2 separate regions of the Homo sapiens genome follow, and region 1 is linked to region 2. The links come from fine-mapping of genetic effects on gene expression. Tissue or cell type: whole blood. Region 2 holds a variant in brackets; the other region holds the start of a gene. All regions are shown on one strand. Distances are between the middles of the regions.

Region 1 (8,178 bases), 27 kb after region 2:
TCAAATAACTCAGAAACAAGCCCATAGTCATGGTGATAGCCAGATAACAGCGAATACAGGTATCAGAAGTCGAAAAAGGGAAGAACTAGAGGCTATACTAGAACTGCTGCTACAAGTTATGTAGAGACAGACAGCCAGCAAGACAGCAGCAGAGTATCAAGCCTTGAACATAATCATCCGGTAACCCACAAGAGCCCCATCAACAAACCTGTAGAAGTGTAATAACATAACACATATTTCTATAACCATTTTAACTTGCCACAGTCTTTTCATGTCTATTGTCCTATTTTATTCTCACGACAACCCCAGTGGGCAAGTAAAACAGGTATTCTGAAGCTCATTTATCAGATAGAGAAACAGAACTAAGAAGTTAAATAATCTGCCTAGGGCTCACAGGAGGACTGTGACAGAGCTGGACCGAGAATCCCAGTCTTTCAACTGTCCTTTATCTCTGCTACGAAAACACAATGCTCTGTACTCTGTCCAAAAATGAGCTCGGCACTATGATCTAGGTTAAGGGGCCAGTTTGTGCAGATAGCTAATGTAGAAATTTCTCTTGCCCTCCTGAACAGGGAAAAGAAATCGTTCTCTTTTCTGAGATTCGCTTATCTACAACTAATGAGAAAAGCCACGTAAAAAAGTAAGTTCTTAGTTTAAGAGAATTCCAGAGAAAGTATCAAAGGATGCCAGAGTCATGCCCAAAAGTAAACTGGTCGTAAAAGATTTAGAAAGCCCTGGAAACAGAAAAGAAAGCATCATCTTACACTTGTACAAAATCACAGTGCAGCCACACCAGGAATACTGCATTCACTTCTTGTCGCCATACCTCAAGGAAGACAATGCAGCTAGAAAAGGTCCAGAGAAGGACAAATAAAATGACCAACAGCTCAGAGTGGCTTTCACATGAAAATAAAATTTTATATCAGACTCTTCAAATTGAAATAACAAGATGGGGATGCTGGGATAAGGTTTGGGATCAATTTAAGAGTACTCTCAACCAGGACCGGTGGCTCACACCTATAATCCCTGACCTTTGGGAGGCCAAGGCAGGAGGATTGTTTGAGACCAAGAGTTTGAGACCAGCCTGGGCAACATAGCAAGACCCCATCTCTACAAAAAACGTTTTAAAAATTAGCCAGGTGCAGTGGCACATGCCTGTAGTCTCAGCTACTCAGGAGGCTGAGGCAGGAGGAGCCCTTAAGCCCAGGAGTTTGAGGCTGCAGTGAGCTATGATTGTGCCACTGCACTCTGGTCTTCTTATAATCTTCTTACAAAGTGGTTAAGCAGGAGTTAAGTTATTATTAAACCCTAAGAAGTAGTACTATTGGGCCAATCAGGAATTAACGACATTTCAGGAAAAAAAAATGAATTATTTGCTATAATTAAATAGAGAGCATTTTCCTAAATACCTGATTTATTTATTATCAAGGTCAGAATAATCTCAAAAATAAAGATCCTTGATATCCACAGAAGATAGAATACCAGGGGGATAGACAGTAAAATTAAATCAGTATGCCACTGCTGAACTTTTTAGGCCTTTCTGGGTCACCAACACAGGAGGGAGAAAGATTCTTACCACCCGGTTCCACAAGGCACCCTGTTTACTTTGCATATCTGGGGTAAGGCGGATATACTGGGTCATCACCATGGCATTGCCCATCAGATTCCACAGTGAGGAACTGCCTGTGCCCACACCTACAGGAAGGAAGTAGATCAGTTCATACTTTTCAACACCAATCCATTCAGAAAGCAGCCACCACAGAGCCTCTGAAAGCTGAGCCATCATCTTTTTCCCCCTTTAATGTCACTCAATCTCCTATCTTCTCTCAGTCATGAATCTTACCATCTCTACAGCTTTCACAAGGCCTTTATCAGGTAAGGACCCCAAAGCACATCAGAACTCTCACTTTATGCATGTTACAGTAACCATAGCTCACATCCATTCTTCCCGTTTTATATGTGAGTAAACTTCAGCATCGTAAAAGAAAAAAATTTTCCTGAGTTATATCAAAAAGAGTTTGACAGGCCAGGTGCAGTGGCTCACCCATGTAATCCCCACACTTTGAGATGATGTGGAGGGAGGGCATCTTGAGGTCAGCAATTTGAGACCAGCCTGGGCAACATAGAAAGACCCTGTCTTTACCAAAAAAAAAATTAGCCAGGTGTGGTAGTCCTTGTCCATAGTCCTAGCTACTCAGGAGGCTGAGTTGGGAGCATCGCTTGAGCCCAGGAGATTGAAACTGCATGAGCCATGATTGTGCCACTGCACTCCAGCCTAGGCAACGGAACAAGACCTTGTCTCTAAAAATATATAAATATAAATAAAAAGAGTTTGACCCTCAGGCCTCCGGGGCTTAGTCACATTCTTCCTTTTTTTTTTTTCTTTGAGATGGAGTCTCGCTCTGTTGCCCAGGCTGAAGTGCAGTGGCATGACCTCGGCTCACTGTAAGCTCTGCCTCCCGGGTTCACGCCATTCTCCTGCCTCAGCCTCCTGAGTAGCTGGGACTACAGGCGCCCGCCACCACACCTGGCTAATTTTTTTGTATTTTCAGCAGAGATGGGGTTTCACCGTGTTAGCTAGGATGGTCTCAATCTCCTGACCTCGTGATCCGCCCACCTCGGCCTCCCAAAGTGCGGAGATTACAGGCGTGAGCCACCGCCCCAGCCGTCACATTCTTTCTTTAAACAATCCTTAAAGTGTGAAGCTACTCCCTGTACCCTCACCTATAAACTTCTTTAAGAATGAAAACTTTGTGTCTGCAAACCCATAAGCATTAGCAAAGAGACAGCACAGAGGCACTCCAGGCATGTAAGTGAATAAATGATTACCCTTAGTAGTAGAGTATACTCTTGCACTTTGAATTGTTTTCTGTCCCACTACCTACGCCTTAGTGGGGAAAGACTTGTGTTAGTTAAGCCATCTGCACTGGTTTGTCATCGTTTTGTGGCTAACTGCATTAATTTTCTGGCTGATAAGCTGTGCTTAGAGTTCTGTGAACCCTAACCTCTTTCACCAACAGGGCCCCTAGGCTGGAGAAGAGAAGGTGGTTCTACCCAGCAACATAAATTTATCATCTTCTCATTTCGTTCAAGTTCTACCCCAGTTCTTCCTCCTGCTTTATTTCTAGCACATCCACAGGTCCATCTGGAGACTGGCTCATTGCTAGTAGCCCTCAATCACTCCTCACCATTCTCAATTCTCTCCCCTTCCCAAACTCCTCCTGTCTAACTCCAGGCCTAGTACTAGTGGCACCCGACAGCCCTGCCTTTACCTACTGGAAACTTCCAGAGCTTGGCAGGCACACCTAACTCCTGCCTTTCAGACCTGTGGCTCCCAAACGCGGAGGGAGTCTCCGTGGGCCCCACCACCGCCAGCAGTTTCCTCCGGGCCACGAAGCCCTTCGCCGCCCCCGCCTCTACCCCTGAAATCAAGTCCCGAAGCCCGCCCCACTGCACGACCACCTCACCCTGGGCGCCTCACCCTGGTAGGGCTTCGACAGCGAGTGCTCCCGTTTCAAGTACTCGAACGTTTGACCCGCCCCGACTTGCTGTGGCCCCTGCCCAGACCCCAACAAAAGAAGAAGGAGTAACATCCTGGACCCATCCCGAGCCGACAAACATCGCCGCCACTGCTGCCACGACCCAAGGGGTCCCAGAGTCGCCGCCATCTTTCCCACCAACGACCCTTCATCAAAAGCCCGCCCCGTCGCCCAACCCATTGGCCCGAAGAGCCATCTGCCCTGCGTCCTATTGGCTTTCGTCAAGCCCCCGCCCCTGCAGGTGACTATATCACCGATTGGCTGGCTTCTGTATCAGTTGCCTTGCCAACCCAGAAAAGGGGCGTAGCCGAATGCCCAGCCCCCCCCCTTATTTGCATTTGCCCTGAGTTCCACTAGGCTTGCTGGGATACGTAGTTTATTTGTATTTTGTTTTCTGCGTACGAGAGTAAATTTAAAGAGATAAAACGTTTCTTCTGGTCCCAAACATTCTATCCTCTCTGCAATAGTACGCTCCTGACTGCAGCTCTCTGAATCAATTTGGAAGATATAGCAGTGAAAGGAGAAATAGACAAATCCGTAAAATAGCTGGAAAACTATCAATTTATAAAAGACTTGAACAGCACTACCAACTAACTTGACCTGATGATATTTATAGAAACTCCACCTAACAACTGCGGAAGACACATTCTCTTCAAATGCAAATGACTCCTTTGCCGTGATAGTCTGGGCCATCAAGCAACCTACAGATATAAAAGAACTGAAAGCACACAAATTAATTAATTCTAAAAGCCATCACCTCCTTTCCTCCCTTCCTCTTTTTTTTCTTTTTGGTTTGAGACGAGGTCTTGGCCAGGCGCGGTGGCTCACGCCTGTAATCCCAGCACTTTGGGAGGCCGAGGCAGGCGGATCACCTGAGGTTGGGAGTTCGAGACCAGCCTGACCAAGGTGGAGAAACCCCGTCTCTATTAAAAATAAAAAAAAAAATTAGCCAGGCGTGGTGGCACGTGCCTGTAATCCCAGCTACTGGGAGGCTGAGGCAGGAGAATCGCTTGAACCTGGGAGGCAGAGGTTGCAGTGAGCCGAGACCAAGCCATTGCACTCCAGCCTGGGCCACATAGAGCAAAACTCCATCTCAAAAAAAAAAAAAAAAAGAGAGACAAGGTCTTGCTCTGTTGCCCAGGCTGGAGTGCAGTGGCACAATCTCAGCTCCAGCCTCTCCCTCCCTGGCTGAAGTGATCCTGCCACCTTAGCCTCCTGAGTTACTGGGACTACAGGCACATCCCTTCGTCTTTATCCGGCACCACAACATGTGTCCAGACTGGTCTCCACGTAGCCACTAAAGTGATCCAAACTATCTAACCATGGTAAGTGTCAGGGTTAAATGAGTCAATATTGGTAAACCTCTTAGAACAGTGCCTTGCGTGTAGTAAGCACTATTTCTTTCTTTTTTCTTTTCTTTTTTTTTTTGTTTTTGTTTTTGTTTTTGTTTTTGAGACAGGGTCTCTCTCTGTCACCCAGGCTGGAGTGCAGTGGCATGACCACAGCCTCAACCTCCTGGACTCAAGGGATCTTCCCACTTCAGCCTCTCAAGTAGCTGGGACTACAGGTGTGTGCCACCTCACCTTGCTAATTTTTATTTTTTGTAGCTATGGGGTTGTGGGGGAGGTCTCACTAAGTTGCCCAGATTTGTCTCATACTTCTAGACTTCAGTGATCCTCTCTCCTCAGCCTCCCAAAGTGCTGGGATTAGAGGTGTAAGCCACCGCACCAAGCCATAAGCGCTATTTCATCATCATCATTCTTATTAACCGGGCCTTTGATGGCTCACCATCACCTGTGGGGAGGAGATTCAAGCCCCTCAATTTGGCACACAAAGCCCCCTGCCATCTGGCCCTGGCCTTATTGCCCATGACTCTTTTCCTCCATCTTTATGCTCCAGCTTCCCTTCCCTCTTTTTTTTTTCTGCAGTCCACTTCCTTCTGGAGGTCCTTCTCAAACCTCTCAGGCAGGGTAGATTCTCCTGTCTGAGCTCTCAAAGTGTTCCATGCACATCTCATATAGAGCAATTGACAGATCTGTGTTTATGTCTTCCCAATAGACTTAACCAAAGTTAACACTCTCTTGCTTTCCTGAGCATGAATATATTTAATAAGATAAACATAATTATGAGCCTACTTTACAGGGGATCAACTTTTTAAAATTAAAGCTGTCACAGCTATTTTTTTTAAAGAGATGGGGTCTTGGCTGGGCACGGTGGCTCAGGCCTGTAATCCCAGCACTTTGGGAGGCAGGCGGATCACCTGAGGTCAGGAGTTCAAGACCATCCTGGCCAACATGGTGAAACCCCATCTCTACTAAAAATACAAAAAATTAGCCAGCCGTGGTGGCACACGCCTGTAGTCCCAGCTACTCAGGAGGCTGAGGCAGGAGAATCACTTGAACCCAGAAGGCGGAGGTTGCAGTGAGCCGAGACCGCACCACAGCACTCCAGCCTGGGCAACACAGTGAGACTTCGTCTCGAAAAATATATATATACATATATATACAAAAATTAAATGGGCGTGGTGGCAGGTGCCTGTAATCCCAGATACTTGGAAGGCTGAGGCAGGAGAATCACTTGAACCCAGGAGGTAGAGGTTGCAGTGAGTCAAGAAGATCCCACCACCATACTCCAGCCTGAGCAGCAGATCCGTCTCAAAAAAACAAAAAAAAGAAGAAATGGGGTCTCAATCCATCAGGCTGGGGTGCAGTACTGTGATCATAGCTCACTACAGTCTCAAACTGCTGGGTGAGCCTCAGCTAATTTTTAAAATTTTTTCTAAAGATGGGGGTCTCTATGTTGCCCAGGCTGGTTTTGAACTTCTGGCCTTAAGCGATCCTCCCACCTCATCTCTCAAAGTGCTGAGATTACAGGTGTGAGCCATGGTGCCCAGCCTGTCACTGCCATCAGTCTTTGACACCCTACAATGTCAAATGTCTGGTGCTAAGACTTTAGGAATTGCAATGAATCTGTTCGTGTCATACACTGGCTTTAAAACCATTCATAACTCCCAATTACCAAAATCCAAAGTCCTTAGTGTAGCATTCAAAGCCCTTTGCATCCTGACTGAAATCAGGCGCTACGCATGTGTACTGTAATGTGTGTCACCTGGAATTATGGAGCTCAATTAACAGATTATGGGTTTGTCTCCGCAGCAAGGCTGGGAGCTCCAGGACCACAGGAAGCAGGTCTTACTCATTTCCTAACTCAGGCCCCACCCATTTCCCCAACCCCAACCTATCACCCAGCACATAGTAGGGGTTCTAATTGTTTTGAATAAATTATTTCCATTGCATTTCTCTGCAAGATGAATTTTTAATTGTAGTAAAATGCACATAAAGGCCGGGCGCGGTGGCTCACACCTGTAATCCCAGCACTTTGGGAGGCCGAGGTGGGTGGCTCATCTGAGGTCGGGAGTTCGAGACCAGCCTGACCAACATGAAGAAACCCCGTCTCTACTAAAAATACAAAATTAGCCGGGTGTGGTGGCGCATGCCTGTAATCCCAGCTAGTTGGGAGGCTGAGGCAGGAGAATCGCTTGAACCTGGGAAGTGGAGGTTGCGGTGAGCCAAGATCGCGCCACTGCACTCCAGCCTAGGCAACAAGAGTGAAACTCTGTCTCAAAAAAAAAAAAGAAAAAAAATACATAAAATACAGCGTATAATTTTTAAGTACAGATGGTCCTCAACTTACAATGGGGTTACCTACAGAAAAACTAAACCCATCCTAAAGTCTAAAAATCCTAAGTCAAACCATCATTAAGTCAGGACCATGTGTGTTCAGTTCAAAGGCATTAAATTCATTCGCAGTGTCATGCACCCTGTCAGCTGAATTTCTGATAGATTGACACAAGCAGAAATCTCATTGTAAAATTCTGTGTGATGAGGAAAAGGGGAATAAAGGAGAAGGGTGTGAAAGGTGAGATGCACTGGACTATAAATCAAATCATTTTGTTCAGACTGTTGCAATAGGAAGAATGCTTATTAATGAGGAATGTATCAAAGAAAAGGAAGAGCCAGGCCCGGTGGCTCATACCTGTAATCCCAGTACTTTGGGAGGCTGAGGCGGGTGGATCATGAGGTCAGGAGTTCGAGACCAGCCTGGCCAATATAGTGAAACCCCATCTCAACTAGAAATACAAAAATTAGCCAAGCGTGGTAGTGCACACCTGTAGTCCCAGCCACTCGGGAGGTTGAGGCAGGAGAATCGCTTGAACCCAGGAGGAAGAGGTTGCAGTGAGCCAAGATCATGCCACTGCACTCGAGCCTGAGCAACAGAGTGAGACTCCATCTCAAAAGAAAAAAAAAAGGAAAGGAAGGACAGGCGGGGCTCGGTGGCTCACACCTGCAATCCCAGCACTTTGGGAGGCCGAGGTGGGGGTGGAGGGCGGAATCATTTGAGGTCAGGAGTTCGAGACCAGCCTGGCCAACATGGTGAAACCCTGTCTCTACTAAAAATACAAAAATTAGCCAGGCATGGTGCCTGTAATCCCAGCTACTTGGAAGGCTGAGGCAGGAGAATTGCTTGAACCCAGGAGGCGGAGGTTGCAGTGAGCCGAGATCACGCCATTGCACTCCAGCCTGAGCAACAAGAGTGAAACTCCATCTCAAAGCAAAACAAAAGGAAGGAGACCTGGGGT
Region 2 (8,178 bases):
TGCATCAGCCATTTCTCAAGGAAGCTGCAGTTCCTTTTAGGGGGAATTGGTATTTAGAGACCACAAATCTGAGTGCTAGGGGTGCTCATTGCTACTAGGTTGGTTACTGACTGGGGCCTGGATTTCTGGTCATTTATAAGGAGAGCATCCACAGCTGCTTGGACTGCTAGAATCTTTAGCAGATTCCCAGGTAGTGAAAAACTGGATTCATCTTCTGTTGGAAAAATGTTAACTGTCAGAGCTCAGTTTAAACCATGGGACAGGATAAAAGGCCAGGGCAATGCTCCTCATGCAATGCAGGGCATTAAAGCCTGGAACGGCTGGGAAACATCCTAACTTTCTCAGCAGTTTTCAACAACCTACTATACAACAAGTAAGAGGATGGCAACAAGAAAGACCTCAAAAGAAAGAAACAACTTGCATTTAGGGATACCCTATGGGCAGAGAACACAGACTTACTAACTTGGGTATTCTCACTAAAGACCTAGGGCAAAAAACTTAGACTAAACAAAAAATTATTCTCCCCTGCCATTTCTGACAGTTGGGGACTTTCCATTAAAAAGTACGTCAGGAGGTTAACCCAGAAACCTGTAAGCTCAAAGGAAAATGTGTAGTCATATAATGAGATTATATAGCAAAGATCTCCAGCCTATGCCTCCTATCCCCCTGCCGAGACTAAATTTTTCCCACAGGTCTGGCCTGCTCGGTACTTAGAACCTAATTGCCAAAACTAATCTCTCTGCATGACAGAAAGCAGATCAATGGTTGCCTGGAATCCAAGAAGGGGAGGAATACTGCAAAGGGGGATAATAAGGCTTTTGGCAGGTGATGGAAACATTCATATCTTAATTGTGATGGTGACTACATAGGTGTAAATATTTGTCAAAACTCTTCAAACTGTATTCTTCTGTTGTATGGAAAGCACACCTCAGTAAAGTTGATTTTAAAAAAATCAGATGCCAGAGTTTTAAAGATCAGCAGATTGCATTTTAAAAATCCAGATTATCCAGGCTGGGCTCAGTGGCTCATGCCTGTAATCCCAGCACTTTCGGAGGCCAAGGCGGGCGGATCACAAGGTCGAGATGGAGACCATCCTGGCCAACATGGTGAAACCCCGTTTCTACTAAAAATACAAAAATTAGCTGGGCGTGGTGGCGCGCCTGTAGTCCCAGCTACTTGGGAGGCTGAGGCAGGAGAATCGCTTGAATACAGGAGGTGGAGGTTGCAGTGAGCTGACATGGCGCCACTGCACCCCAGCCTGGCGACAGAGCGAGACTCCATATATATATATAAAAAAAAATCCAGAATTCCAACTGCTCTTGAAAAACTGGAAGATTTAGCCTCACTGAGCTGACATTTCCTTTTAGCTACAATGGCTGGAGCTCACTAGCTGTCGGCTTTTTCAGATGGGTATCTGCCTTTCTATTTTGCCACAAGAAACTTCTATTCCAAACTAGCTTTATCCAGAACAAATTATATTAATCAAAAGAAACAGAAGTTCAGTTCCTTTTCTCTTCCCAAAAGATGTTATGATTGGGGTTCAAGCAAAGAGAGTAAGTGTATAAACGAGAAGCTACGAATCAGGCATAAGTAGAAAAAGAAACAAGAGGAGATGGAAAAGTAAAAGAACCAGGTGCTGTTAATGTCACATAAGTCAAGAAGGCAAGAGTTTCAGGGTAATGGGTTAAATGAGCTGAGGAGGACAAAGGGTGAGAACGAGAATAGAGTACTGAATATGGCAAGGAAACAGAATGACCTTTCATGAGAATGGTGTTAGTGTACTAGCAAGATAGAGCACAGGTCTGAGTCAGCATGTTAAGGAGGTGGACAGCTAGGAAACAAAAGGATCTGTACACACAACACATTCAAAAGTCTCAGCAAAAGGAGAGTCTGGGGTCAGAAGAGGGACGGCAAAGTCAAGGAAAAGCTTTGTTAAGGAAGGGGAACGGGGAACATTAGTGGTTGGAAGGAGAGGAGCCTGACAGCAGAAATCAGAAAGCAAGGAACTCACGATACAGGCTAGAAGAGCCAGCTTAATGAAGGGACAAACACTGCTTTCTATTAGCACCAACCATCTTCTAGTGACAACTGTACTAGGAAAGCCTGGCGTGGGTTTTTAAGGAATGTGGATATAAGAATGCAGAAGGAGAAGCAGTCTTGAGGCACCTCCTTCCAGAGCACCGCTCCTCTGGCTCTCCCCTGTGAGAGGCCTCAATGAAGTGTGGGTATTGAGAAGAGGCCTCAGTCAGGGCAAACCAAGAGTGCGCGTGGCAGTACCTGAGAGATCCCCAGTGATGGAGGAGGTGCCGAAGTAGTAGCCGCGGGGCAGGCGGACTCCGGGCACTTCAATGCAGTCCCTCCACTCATGCTTGCCATCAATATCCATCATTATCTAGAATAAAAAGAGAGATAAATCAGGGTCAGGCCATGGGAGCAAGAGCGACACAGCCCACACCACCATCTGGTCCAGGACAAGGACTCTCACCGTCAAATGCCTCTTGACGTAGCGAATCACCAGGAAGGTGTCGTAATGAAGATTGCGGACAATGGCTGTGCAGCCTCCCAGCTCTGTAGGCCGCCCATCCCGCTCATGATCATAGCTGAGGGAGCCGTTGTTCACCATGGCTGAGATGTAGGGGAATACCCGCTGGAAAGCAGAGAGGGGGAAGCAGACACTAAGGAAGAGCACATAGGAACGCCTGTACAAACAGCAACAGGAATTCAGCACATACAAGTTGAGCCCCTTACAGCAGAATAGGCAGCCACTCGACCTCATTGTCAGCAGCCCCTGAGAGCCCACATTCAGATGGTCTCTCAAGGGAAATGGGCCCAGGAAGCGACTACACTTGGTATTTGCCTTCAGTAATTCTCTTGGCTCCTGAACTGGGGTGGGCCTGAAGTGGTCCTCCTAAGACGCTGGAGTCTGACTTGAATGCCCCAAGGTCACCATTTGGCACTTATGTGCCGCCTAATACCAGGGGTTTCCTTTTCGTGTATATGTACCTATCTCCCCAACTGCCACATAAGCTTCTTGAAGAAAAAATTCATTCATCACGTCTTCATATGTCTAAACTTCAGCCCCATCTCCTCCCAACCATGGTTCTGCACACAGCGGGTATTCTGAAAATACCTGTTTGAGCAGGGGAATCTTTCCATTCAGGATAGCTCTTTTCAATTCTAAAATTCTATAAGCATATAAGGCTAAATGGATTAGAACTCAGAACATGGAACGGGGTTGCTGGATGGGCTCAGCCAGCCACAATGACTGTCCTTAGTCAAAAGACTTTCCAGCCCACTTAAGCCTCCTCCACACGTAACTTCTCCGAATAATAATAAGAGGGCAAGGTTCTCCCTTAACAGGGAGAAAATTGCAAGTTTTCCCATAAGCCACTCATTTTCCCATCTATTTCAGGGGCCCTCTCTCCCCAGTAGAGTTGTAGGAGCAATTCTTCCTTAGAAATGGCGAACTAATCATTCCAGAACAAGCCCAATGCCAAGGCAGTGCAAAAAGGCAGGGTAGTGAGGTGGTGAAGGGGTAACATGAGGCATGCCACTCCTTTGGGGAGTATTTGTCCCTTTGTCCCAAATGGTTAACATGCAAGATGGAGATGCAGTCGAGACCAGAGACCGGGGACTCCTGAGACAACCACATGGACTTGAAACAGCAACAAATGTTGGATGGACACATGGGAATGAGGGATGCTCATGATGAGCCAAGAACTGAGTACCTGGACTCCTGGAGAATATCGCCTCTTCTGGGCCTGAGAGGGTCCAGCAGGTTATGATAAAAACAAGAGAGGGCACAGAAGACAGGAGACCAAGTCAGAAAGACACAGCCACAGAAGAGCTATGACCCAGCTGTGATGGATGAACAAACCAACTTAAATCCCCAAACAGAATTTTAGGGTCCCTGAAGGGCATCCGTGAAGTCTTTGCACCCTCAAGATGATAGGCAAAACCATATGCACGGGTGCTTGTACATTTTTCTGAGGAGAGGGTCTGTTACTATATCAGATTCTCAAAGGGGTCCCCTAGGAAGACCGCTCTAACCCATAGAGGGTCCTGAAGCTTTTGGAAGGCACTTTATAAAACACATAGCAGTACGCTGTCCAGGCACGCCGCACTTATGTCTCTGGGAGTCAGTCTCAAGTTTGTCTGTACCCAGCCTACTGTATTTCTATAGCAAGGGGAAAGAGGAGACAACAGGGCTAAATTCTTCCAAATTCAAGACATCCTTTACTATCCAGGATCTCAGGAAACAGCTCCTGCCCAGAAGACCAAAATCTTGCCACTTGAGAGACTATGAAACTAACTCTAATCCAAAGGGATCACTTACCCTCTAACTGAGCCTTATGGTCATATATTCCCAAATAACTATTGTCATTCTAACCTACCACACATAGGCAAGGAAGAAGCTCCATGGAGGCATTGCAGAATGACAGATTTAGAAAATCATCAGGCGTGAGGGTATTAAGCTCTGCTCCAGCAAACAGCTGCAGTTCTAAGCCATTAGCGACAAGAGGTACCTACACAAGCTCAGCTCAGCTCTGCCCTGTGGGACAGGTAGGCGAGGGTACAGAACTCAAACCCTTCACTCCTTTAATACGGTGAACACCTACTACAAGCCAGGTACTGTTCCAGATGCTGAGGGTCCAAAGAGAAACAAGACAGACAGGAATGGAATTAAGATCAGAGTGGAAGAAACAAACAACAAAGAAGCAAATAAAATTATTTCAGATAGTGAAAAATGCTATAAGGAAAATAAAATAGGTAATACAAGGGATGGGCAAGGGAACCTCTCCCTGAGGAGGCAATATCTGAGCTGAGACTCAAGTAATTAGAGGGAGTCCACCAAAAGATCTGAGGGCACAAGAAGCATGAGGGTGGCACATTCAAGGAACTGGAAACAGATCAGTCAGAATCACAGCTTGTGAGAAGAGGCTGCCATGAGGCAAGGCAGCACCCACGGCACTGGGCTCCATGGGCCACAGCCAGGAGTCCGAGGCTGCAGTGCAGATCCCCTGCCGTCCTCCTCTTAACACCACTGGCAGAATTCATACAGGACACAGAAAGGCATGACATCAATCCGTGGATGATTAAACTGGCATGAAGT[T/G]AATCTTCAACAACTACCATTTAGAACAAGGAAATGGTGAGCATGTTATCAAGCAGTTTACAGAAACTGGCATCTGAGAGTATGCTCATAATTTCAGTGACAATTAAGAAAAAGGGATTAAAAATGCCCTGTGGAGCTCTGATGAGCCCAAGGCTTCCTTCACTCATCACCTCTAGTAACCCTGATTAGAAGTTTAAGTTGCAACTTTAAAGAGATAGCAATCTCCTATGTTAGCTTGCTTAGAAAATAAACAAATAATAAAGAGACAGCAATCCTTAGCCTAAGGGTGCCTTACTCTTCCCAAGGCTGGTGTGGACCCAGTTCCAGGTAACAGCCAGAGGCATGCTGGACCTTGGGAGCACCTGAAGGAGCTTGTTAACTGCACGTATACATGGGTCCCTCAGTCAAAGAGTCTCATTCGTATGGCTAGAGTGGGGTGCAGGATTGTTTTTTGTTTGTTTTTTTGAGATGGAGTCTCACTCTGTCACCCAGGCTGGAGTGCAGTGGCGAAATCTTGGCTCACTGCAACCTCCACCTCCTGGGTTCAAGCAATTCTCCTGCCTCAGCCTTATGAGTAGGTGGGATTACAGGCGCTCGCCACCATGCCCAGCTAATTTTTGTATTTTTAGTAGAGATGGGGTTTCACCATGTTGGTCAGGCTGGTCTCGAACTCCTGATCTCGTGATCTGCCCGTCTTGGCCTCCCAAAGTGCTGGGATTACAGGCGTGAGCCACCGCACCCAGCCAGGATTATGTATTTTTAAAAAGCACCACAGAAGGCTGTGATGTGCAGCCAAATTGAAGAAACGCTGCACCAGACAGGGAGCCTCACAGCTTTGCAACTACAGAGAATCTGTCTACTTCGGCAACACGAGTTGGCCTTCAACTTTTAACCTCACATTAGTGTAAGTCACTAAATGCCATCTTATTTTCTACGCCTAGTCAAGAGTTCCTGGAAGTATTTCTTGGATAACCACTAATTTCACACAGGAGCAATTTTGTTTTTCCCCTAGAAAGCACTCTGTAAGTTAGAACCAAAGATTGAAGAATCACACTGGTTCAGGCAAGGTGGTAGTTTTATTCCTAATTTAAGAGTCACCAGAAAGGAGAAACTCTCACCTGTTTTATCATCCAAAGGACTGTTGTTTAAAGGGTGGAGAAATGTTTTCAACTTTTTGTACTACAAGACTACTTTTAAAAAAGTGTTTTTTGAAGACCTCTACGGGATAACTGTATCTTCAGCATATTTCGATGGAAAAGACACCCATTAGCTTGTGGATTTATGGATTCTAGGCTAAAATTCCAAATGGCCTCTGTAATTAGGGAGACCTGAGTTCTAACTGCAGTTATGTCACTTATAGCTGTGTAACCCTTCGGTGGATTACATCACCTCTTTGAGATTCTATTTCCTCACTGTAAACAGAACAATACAAAGCTCACAGGGTTCATTATGAAGATGAAATGAGATATGCGAAGCATTTAGTACAATGTCTTGGTGTTCAGGAGGGAGTCAATAAACATTCAATCAGTGACTAGTGTATTTCTAGATACAAATATCGTTCACAGGTACTCATATATATATAAACACAAAGCCAAACATACATCTTCTAAAGCACGAATTCCCAGACCACTGGCTGTGATCAACCATTAATATTTCCAAAAATATTTTGGAGAGTATTAGATTTGGCTTCTTTTTATTGCCTACTAAAAATATTAAAATACAATAATGACAGAACAATCATCTATAATAAACATCATTTTACAAAGGGACACTTTAACACCAAAAGATGAGAGAGAACAATGTAATTTCATAATGAAACAACTGAATACATTTAGCACTTAAGAAAAAGAACTTCATTATTATGATTCTTGCACCAGTGAAAACTCTGTTACCACACAACTGGAGTTCATACACTGGCATCTAGGAGCCACTCTTTTAGAGCAGTGTTTCCATCTCAAACCATACCATTGTCTAGTAAGCTGACCATTTGCTTTTGGGAACCCAGATGTGAAGAAGTGAAGGAGGGGAGAGGAAGAGAGAACAGAACTAAGATGTTTGCAAAATGTCCCTTAGGAATCCACTGAATGGTGTGAATAATAGCTGGTGTTTATTGAGCACTTAGTCTGTGCCAGGCACTGAACTCAGTAATGAGCCCTTCTGCATTTAATTCTCACAATCCTATGAGGTAGTATCAGTACTCCTCATTTCACAGGTAAAAAACTTGTCCAGGATAACACAGGCATTAAGTAGTGAAATCAGGATTTGAAACCAAGTATTCTGGCTCCAGAGCCCTGACTCAATCACTGGGATACACTGCTTTCAATATCTCTCAATATGGAAAAATGTTTCATATGTATTATTTTTTTAAAATCAGGTCTAAACAGTATGTACTCTGAAGCACAAAGAGAACGCTGAGAATAGTTCCAGATTAAAGGAGAGTAACAACTGAATACAACACAGGATCTGGGACTTTCTTTCATTATAAAGGACATATTGGGACAATAGGTGAAATATGAATAAGGCCTGCAGATTAGATAATGGTATTGTTACAAATGTTAACTTCCTGATTTTGATCACTGTGCTGTGGCTACATAAAATAACTTTTTTTTTTAAACACACACACACACACAAGTATTTAGGATTAAGGAGACATCATGAGAGCAATTTACTCTTAGTTCAGAAAAAAAGACACACAAGCACAAACATACACGCAAGACACATACACACAGACACACACACACAAAGAAAGAGGTTAAAGAAAAGGATGGCCAGGTGTGGTGGCTCACACCTATAATCCCAGCACTTTGGGAAATGAAGGTGGGAGGATTGCTTGACCCTAGGAGTTTGAGACCAACCTGGGCAACATGGCAAAACCCCATCTCTACAAAAAGATAGCTGGGCTTGGTGGCATGCACCTGTAGTCCCAGCTACTTGGGAGGCTGAGATGGGAGGCTCTATTGAGCCTGAGAAGTTGAGGCTACACTAAGCTGTGATTGTGCCACTGCACTCCACCCTGGGTGACAAAACCAAACCCTGTGTCGGAAAAAAAAAAAAAAAAAAAAGGA

What was found. PIP is the estimated chance that this variant, and not a neighbour inherited with it, causes the effect.
Region 1: LMAN2L starts here. The variant in region 2 is fine-mapped to the expression of LMAN2L in whole blood (TOPMed, PIP above 0.99).

The regions. Positions count from the first base shown.
Region 1 is chr2:96,736,373-96,744,550 of GRCh38, forward strand. LMAN2L (lectin, mannose binding 2 like) reads right to left here and starts at 3,692. Exons shown (of 8, transcript NM_030805.4): 1 at 3,482-3,692; 2 at 1,577-1,695. The coding sequence starts at 3,668. RefSeq lists enhancers at 2,068-3,007, 3,008-3,945.
Region 2 is chr2:96,709,379-96,717,556 of GRCh38, forward strand. LMAN2L (lectin, mannose binding 2 like) reads right to left here. Exons shown (of 8, transcript NM_030805.4): 5 at 2,486-2,647; 6 at 2,278-2,392. Among named protein-coding and RNA genes, the nearest start is that of LMAN2L, 27 kb to the right of the region's middle. The variant T/G (reference allele first, on the strand shown) is at 5,114.